Linked DNA regions of Homo sapiens: region 1 is linked to region 2. Evidence: fine-mapped expression QTL. A gene starts in region 2. The other region holds a variant in brackets. All regions are shown on one strand. Distances are between the middles of the regions.

The links. PIP is the estimated chance that this variant, and not a neighbour inherited with it, causes the effect. A credible set is the group of variants that fine-mapping cannot tell apart.
Region 1: its variant is the best candidate, but not a certain one, in a credible set for the expression of RBPMS in lung (TOPMed, PIP 0.74).

Annotation. Positions count from the first base shown.
Region 1 is chr8:30,574,322-30,578,321 of GRCh38, reverse strand. It overlaps GTF2E2 (general transcription factor IIE subunit 2), which reads left to right. Exons shown (of 8, transcript NM_002095.6): 8 at 1-4. Among named protein-coding and RNA genes, the nearest start is that of SMIM18, 62 kb to the left of the region's middle. RefSeq lists a silencer at 2,520-2,569. The variant G/C (reference allele first, on the strand shown) is at 1,985.
Region 2 is chr8:30,382,731-30,387,251 of GRCh38, reverse strand. It overlaps RBPMS (RNA binding protein, mRNA processing factor), which reads right to left and starts at 2,711. Exons shown (of 9, transcript NM_001008710.3): 1 at 2,094-2,711. The coding sequence starts at 2,159. It overlaps RBPMS-AS1 (RBPMS antisense RNA 1), which reads left to right and starts at 1,851. Exons shown (of 3, transcript NR_046205.1): 1 at 1,851-2,108; 2 at 3,555-3,708. RefSeq lists enhancers at 1,582-2,253, 2,254-2,924.

The DNA.
Region 1 (4,000 bases), 190 kb before region 2:
GTCATTGTTAATGTTTTCTTTTAAAAAGAAGCGTCAGTGTCAGCCGGGCAAGCTGGCTCACGCCTGTAATCCCAGCACTTTGGGAGGCTGAGGCAGGTGGATCACGAGGTTAAAAGATCGAGACCATCCCGGCCAACATGGTGAAACCCTGTCTCTACTAAAAATATAAAAATTAGCTGGGCGTTGGGGCATGTGCCTGTACTCCTAGCTACTTGGGAGGCTGAGGCAGGAGAATCACTTGAACCCGGGAGGCGGAGGTTGCAGTGAGCTGAGATCGTGCCACTGCACTCCAGCCTGGTGACAGAACGAGACTCCGTCTTAAAAAAAAAAAAAAAGTATCAGTGTCCAGCTTCTTGGGTTTGGTAAATTCCAGGATGGCAAGCCTTTGTAGTGTCTCCTCGTCAACCTGAACGTCAGCTATACCATGCCTCCACCCTCATGTGGCCTGACCGGAGATGGTTCTGGTGGAGATGCCCTCTGTCACCGGCCCAGCTCATGAGAGCCATTACCAAATATGTGAGTGTTCTTTAGAGTGAGGGTGACTCACGGGAAATTCACATGGTTCTGCTTTCTACGGCAAAGTTTGCATTTTCCTCACCTGCACTGTTTATGTTCTGCTGTGGTCCTTTGTGCTGGTGGTCATGGTCCTCCCGTCACAGCATGGGATAGTAGTGGATTAGGAAACGAGGTGTTGGTTCTCAGAAAAGGCATGATGGAAACCCAGAGCAGGAAGTGCTTTGTGCAGACGACAAAGAACCTTTTTTTGCTTTTTCAGTTGTTTTCTCTTTTCTACTTACCTCTCATCCCTTTACAGTGTTATCTGTTTGCTTTACCTCTTTCTTACCTCCAAGCCCCAAAACATGGCAGGAGAGGATGTAACTGAGGTTCCCACGATAATTTAGAACACAGGAAATACAGCCTGTCTTGCTTTGTATAAGGTTTTTTTCTGGTAAGGAAGAGCTTTAATATCTTATGGCATGAAACTAGCTTTCCTGTAAAAAATCTAGAGTTAGCTTATCTCCAGGTAGGTACCTACTTTTGTGATCTCCACACTCCATCTTATTTTATGGGCCAGGTCTGGAAGTACAGTTTGGACATCTCATCTGCTTTGCAGGGAGATGGGCATCAGGGCCTCCGTCGTGGGCTCTGTGATCAGGTTCTCCATCTCTGTGATAAGGCGCTTACTGCCAGTTGTGTTATTGGTTGTGACTTCTAGCAATGCCTGTGCTCAGCAGTACTTCGTGGGCTGGCCTGATAATTGATTTCAGTTATTTTGTCTAAAATTCATTTCAGAAATGAAGATCTAGCAAAATGAAGTGACTCACTAAATTGCTGTACTCAACAAAATTCCGTAGCTTTATCTCATTCACTTGCAGTTTCTTTTGTTAAGCCTCGACCCACTCAGTCTACTACATGTAAGAGCAAATCCTCCATATACCCCATCTCAAGGTACTGGGGTTGCATCATCGGGTGACATGTTGAGGATACAGTGTTTGTGGGAACACTGATGGAAGGTTACTTGTGTTGGACGGTCATATTACAGGCACACCTCATTTTATTGTACTTGCTTTATGTGTTTTCACAGATACAGTGGAGTTTCTTTTCCATATTGAAGGTTTGTGGGAACCCTGCTTCAAGCAGATCTGTTGGTGCCGTTTTTCCAACAGCATGTGCTCACTTTTTGGCAATAATATATTTTAAATTAAAGTATATAATTGGATTCTTTAAGACATAATGCTATTGCTCACTTTCTACTATCATGTAGCATAAACATTTTAATATGCACTGGGAAACCAAAACATTTGTGTGACCCACTTTACTGTGATATTTGCTTTATTGCGATGGCCTGGAACCAAGTCTGCAGCATCTCCGAGGGATGCTATACAGAGAAGCTGTCTCTTCGCAGTTCTTCTGGGTGTCTGAAAACATATCCACCAGAAACACCAAGTTGAAGTCATGTTCTCGCCTCTGCCCGTTTCTGGTG[G/C]CTCTGCTGGCCATTTAGAAGCACGTGGGAATGGCACGGCTCGGTGAGTTAAGAGGGTATGACAGTCGGGAGTGCATTTGATCTATAATTCATCACCATGATGTGAGGCTTTTAGGGGATAGCTAAGGGAAATGTAGTCAAGCCTGGACAGAGTGTAAAAACCGAACATTTGGCTGCTGCTGTCACAGCCTGTAAATGTGGCCAGATGATGGTGGGACCCAGGGGACAGAGTGGCACTTGACACCTGTTGAGCAGAGGCTTAGTGGAAAGGCAGCGCAGGACATCCCGTTCCTTCCAGCCCCAGCGTTCAAGGGACTGCGAGTGGACAGCCCTGTCTTTATCTGTGAGCCGTTTGAAATCTGTAGCAGTAGAATGGGATTGTCAGTGTGGACGGTTTTGTGGGATGAGGGCATTTGGTTTATCAGTTCCCTGATTCTTAGTTAATAGTGATTTTCTGAGGCATAGAGGATGAGACTCAGTGTCTCTTCCCTGTAGCCACGGGTTTTACTTTCAGATGACTCATTTGTGGGGAGGATTTGGGGTTTTCTAAGGTTTGGTTGACTGTTGACAAGCTCAGCCTGGTGCCGCGCCTTCTGCAGCGAGGCGGAGCAGCCCTCCTGGACCTTCCTGCAGGTTCGAGGTCTCTCAGGGTGGTTTTTGTGGGCTTGTCCTGAGAGATGAGAAGGTGTTCTGTGGGAGTTGTGGTGGGATGGTCCAAGGACCTCTTGGAAACCATTTTTCAGACTAACTGGACCGTAGAACACCCATCCCTGTCCTGTCTGGAGTGTTGGGGGAAGCACCGCTGGAAACTCAAAGAGCTAGACGGCCCTGGCTGGCGCTGTACGGTTGGCCCCCCTCTGGCTGCAGTGTAAAGAACGACAGTGCATTTTGCTTCCCTGGATTTCCATTAGAAATAAATGTGGATCCTGCTCTTCAGCAGATGGGGAGGGGACTAATCCAACTCCACTGGTTGGGGATGGGACCAGCACATTTGTGTGACTTAACCATGTGGTTCTGAGACCCTGGTGAAAGCCCAGTGACTTTTCATCTGGCCACAACTTCGTGGGGCTTGCATGTCAAGGGAGAAAAGGCAAAGACTTTCCTTTAAAGAAAACACAGAAGGGTGCCAGCAGGGGATAACTGAGTGAACCATATCCTGATTTAGGCGGGACCAGCTCTAGAAGCGCCAAGAGCAGGTTTGTCCCGTGGGTGGTGATTGTGAGGTTTTGAAGTGCCTGCTAAGCCCCCACGCCAAAGCTTATGTTGTAGTTTTAAAAAGTGCTCTTTTGTCCAGGTAAATCTTTTATTTAACTCGTGCATCATTTCTCATTGCATTTAGGCCTTCCTTTTTGCTCAGAAGAGAAGTTTGGGTTGACTTTAAGCATTTGGCCCAAGTTCCTAACTTGGAATTAACGACCATGGGCAGAGTTCCACGTGAATTTCTCAACTGGACAAGTGGAACACAAGGACCCGAATTTTCTCTTCCCCTCAGATCGTCCATAGGTGAGATGTATGTGAACAGTGGTGGAGAATGGAAGCCTTCACTGTTTTGTTTATGTTTACCAGCAAATTATTACGGTTTGTAGGAAGAGCTCCCTCCTCCCTCGCCCCCCAAATAGGAATGAGTTTGAACTGAGGGTCAGGAAGAGGTAAGTGGCAGGTTCGTTGGAGAGCTGCAGAGGGGCCTAGTTCTCACAGCACACTGGCATCTCTCAGGATTGGGTAGCTATGGAGCCAGGCCAGTTCACACAAGAGTTAATATTAGTTCCATCTGGGATGTTCTACAGCAGGGACAGATAGCTTTACAGTGGCAGTTATTGAAATTTCCTAATTTAGTGCTCTTGATCAAATTGCTGACAACATACAGTTTTTCATTATCATAGTTATTAGAGTTTTAGGAGAGGCATTTATTGAGGATGAGTGTTTTAAATAACACCTCACTGGTAATGAATATTCTTAGGTTTTCTATGCAGGCTGTAAAGTTGTTTTATGCCATGAGGTTTTATGCCATGAGGG
Region 2 (4,521 bases):
TAACTGTTTTGTACACGACATCTCTCTTGGACAACTTGGGTTCTGAAATCTTCCTACGTGTCCCCTTACTTTTTACATAACAAGTGTTTTGCTAAAAAGACCGATACTTTCTAGAGCCACATGCCATTCCTACCTGAAAAGGAACGCTGTCAGATAACAGGACAAGTAAGAGGCAGCAACTGTACTGCAATGGCCCGCGATTATACAGCGATTATTATACACAACCTCACAAGGACGGAGGAGCGTCCAGGAACAGGGCAGGCAATCCCTTGGTCCTGGCAGCTGTTAAGAGGGGTCAAGCAGAAAAATGTGACTTTTCTATACTTAATTTTAATGTGGGTATGATTTTTAGGACATTGAACCTCTTTTGCTACCTACCAAAAGGAAAAAAAAAAGTTTTCTCAACTGGGTGAATAAAGAAAGATGGTTTCATATAATATTCTAACCCTGAGAAGCAAACAGATTGCACATCTAGCTGAAACAGAAAGATTTCTGAAGCGATGATTATCTTGATATGGTAAGTGAATTAGTTAAATATGGTAATTCCTAAAAAAGCACACTTGTCATTATTTTTAAATTTTTTTAAGTGGTAGGGAAAATAAATAGCAAAGCAGCCAGTAAAGTTCAAGAAAAAAAATCAGAACACACCATTCAACTCTCCATCGCTTTGAAAAAAGAAATGCCAGTAGCATTCCTACAATTGTAATTAGAAAACATGCAAGTAAACAACTCTTCAAATAGTCTTTTATAATAAAATAGAAAATGTCCTCGGGTGAAAAAGCAATTTTTGGCTGACTGCAATTCATTTAGGTTTTCACTACCATACAACTGGGTGACGAGTAAAATCTCCTATTTATTTTGCATTGTTTGGCATAGTCTCGCTCCTCTACCTTCTCCATCTAAATAGTTACCATTTTCCAAGTGGACAATGTGCAGAGAAGTTGTATGTATTAATGAATTCCTCTGCAATTTTGGTTTCACTATCAGAATTGAAGTTTGCACACAACATAGTGTCTCAACAATGATCTCAACATTCTAACGCTTTAGAATCCGTTTACCTTCTGTGTTCACCTATATCAGGATCCAATACCTGTGTGAATCTTTTCGGGTCATATTTAGACGTGCACTTTCCTGCATCTACACACACTCTCAAGTTCCTCTAGAATGTTTAAGAACTCAACTGTGTGGGATGTTAAGAAGTACGCCAGAAATAATTTCTTGGACTCCAGATAACGTACCTGCAAAAAGAGTCATTTGGTAGGATACCACAAATATCCTACTGAATTCTGAAACGTTTGTTCCTGAGTCCGACTCCCCTTCTGACCACATCTACTCAATTTTGTTTCCACCGAAGGAACGCTCCGCAGTCACAAAACTTTCATCATGATTACGGACGCACCACCTAAAATGCATGCTCAGAAGTCAAAGTCCTATGAAAATACCCTCGATGAGCATTTGGTGAATTGCTGCGTTTTTAACCCTCTTACTCTGCTCCCCTCAGCTGCACGGCCCCTAAAATCACAAGCGTTCACCGCCCAGGCTCGGGGTCTTTGACTCAGCAGAGAAGAATGTGGCTGATGAGTTATCTATTAATCCAAAAAACCTCGGCTAGAAAGATATTTCACCAAGAACTTTTAACACGGAAAGGGAGGGGGCAGGGAATAGAGGTATCTTTTAACGAGAACTTTCCCCCGAGTTTCTTCCTTAAACTGCTCCCCCCCCGACCCTGAATCCATACACAATTTCCAGCCCCGGCCCTAAGTCCTGACCCTCCGAGTCCCGATTATCTGAGGTCACCCAGGAGTCAGCTCTCGGTTCCACTTATAAATCCCGGGCAAACAAAGCTGAGCATTATACTTACAAAAGTCTCCGAAAAGTCCTTGGAGTTACGCAATTTGGGGCCCGCAGACGCGCGTGGACACAAAAACACACGCTCCCGAGATCCACCCTCCCCGGGCCACACTGTGGGGCTGCGTCCGGGGCACGGGCCATGCCTGAACCTTCTTCCACCGCCGCGCCCCGGGCCCGCGCCCCGCCGGCCGCCCGCACTGGGTCCCGCGTCGCCCCCGCCACCACACCGAGCCGCCCAGTACCTCCTCCTCCTGAAGGTTGGCCTCGCTCGGGGTGTTCTCCTTCTCGGCTTTGCCGCCGTTGTTCATCTTCCCGGTCCTTCCTCGCCGGGCCGGGCAGGGCTGGGGCGCGGGGCTGGGCGAGGGCGCGCTAGCCCACTGGAGCCTTCCCCGGGCGCCGGGGCTCCCTCGGGCGGGCGCCGCGGGCTGTGGGGCTGGAGCTGGAGCCGGGGCAGTGGCTGTCGGGCTCGGGTTGGGCTGGGGCTCCCGCGGCGAGTCTGCGACGGCGGCGGCGGGCGACTCAGGAAGTGCAAGGGAGAGACGGGGCAGGGCGCGGGCCGGGAGCGGGGCACCGAGACAATCGGGCCCCGGGAGGGCGACCTGGAGAGGGAGGGCGGGAGCCAGGGGAGGAAGGAAGAAGGAAGGAAGGAAGGAAGCAAAGGATGGGGCGAGGACGCGCGTCCCAGGAGTAAGCGCGGAGAGTTGGGGCTGGGGGCTGCAGCCGCTGGAAGGAGGGGACGGGGGTGCCTAGAGAGGAGGAGGAGGAGGAAGAGGAGGAGGAGGAGCGGGGCGGAGGAGCGCGGGCCGCGGCTGGGACGCTGGGACCCGAGAGCCGCTGAGTACGCGCTCCAGGCAGGCTCTGGGAAGTCCGGGATGGAAGCAGCTCCCTTTCTCTCGCCTTCCTCCCTCCCCTCTCCCCTCCCTCCTCTCCGCGCCTCTCCTCCTCCCTCCGCCCTCCCTGGACGTGGGCTGCCGGCTGCAGCCCGGAGGGACGGGGCGCGGGACGGAGCCCCCCGCGGGAGGAGGGGCCGGCGGCCGGATGGCGCGCGCCGGGGAGGGGCAGCGGGCCGCGGGCGGAAGCGGCGACCCCAGCCCCCGACTCAGCGGCTGGTCGGAGGGCGAGGGCCCGGGAGGCCGAGGGCAGGGAGGTCGGGTCCCGCCGTTCCCTTGGCCCCCGGGGGCCCCGGCGTCTGCGCGCCCCGGGACTTCGGGGACCCTGCCCCGCCGGGGCCTGGACCGGGACCTGGGATGTGTGCGACTTTTAGTTTGCCGGCTTTTACCGAGGGATTTGCACCCCTGGCCCTAAGCCCACCCTTCCCGAGCCAGACCCGGTTCTTCCTCTGCTGCTTGAATGACAGCATGAGAACTCGAGGGACACCGGGGACAGCCCACTCCGGGCCGGCTTTTTCAGGACAGGGCTTCAAACCCATCTCCAGCGCGGGTCCTGCGACGCGCCCGGAGCCTTCCCCGCTTCGCTTCCTGAGCGTCCCGCGGCCCCCCGACTCCTCTCCCAACTCTCACCAGACTGTTCTGGGATTGTTTACCTGGCCTCTCCCTCACCCTTCAGAAAGCTCCTTCCTGGAAGAAAAAAAAAAATCCTGCCCTATTTATCTTTTTAATCCCACGGCTATTTAAACGGGCTAAGGGGTATATAGCAGGCACTCAATAAATATTTGTTGGCAAAGTGAATATTCCTTATTGCAGGCAGAGCTGGGGGTCCGTACGGAGGAACTTCAGAGGCTGGAAGCACGCTTGAAAAAGAAAGGGGGCCTGGGCTTTGCACCAGCTTCAGGATTGCGTACTTGTTTCCTCATCCGTGAAATGGGAGCAGCTGAATGTGTCTCCTCGAGTTTTCGAGGTGATTATAGGTTGATAGAGCTATATACAGCACCCAGCATTTATTCTTGCTTCGTTTAGGTTTACAATACATGGAAGCTAACATTATTATTAAGAAAACTTCTATTTTTCCAGGGCCTTAGAAAGCGTTTCCAATACTCGATCATTTAAGCTTATGGTTTTTTGGTTTTTTTTTTTTTTAGAAAAATGAGGGTCTCACTTTGTTGCTCAGGCTGAGCTCGAGCTCCTGGCCTCAAGTGATCCTCCTGCTTTTGGCCTCCCAAACTGATGGGATTACAACGTGGAGCCACCGTGTTAAACTCTTAGATTTGACTGCTACAAAGGTATAAATGTGGAACTCCATATATCAGTGGGTTCTGCCCCACTTCTTCCTCCCAGGAATTCTCCATCCCAGCCTGCTGCTCCTGTCTTGCACCGGTAACAGTTTCCAACTACAGTATTTGCTTAACTGTTTCTCCCCACCCCCACCAGACATTCTTTATACTTGGTTTAAGTGCTGCTGGGGATAGGGCGGGGGTGGCTGTGGGAGTTGCAGATAAGGACCCTCCCTTTAGGGAGTTTAAAGTGGTATGGTGGCTCACACTTGGAATCTCAGCACTTAAGGAGATAGAGGAAAGAGGATTGCTTGAGCCCAGGAGTTCAAGACCTGCCTGGGCAACATAGTGAGACTCTGTTCTCCACAGAGGGGAAAAAAAGAAAAGACAAAAAAATAAAGTGGTATGGAGCCAAGATACTCTCAGAATCCTCTTTCCGATTATAGAAAGCAAGGAAAATATTTGCTTTAAGGGCATTATGAGGAGAAAAACAGTAGTGA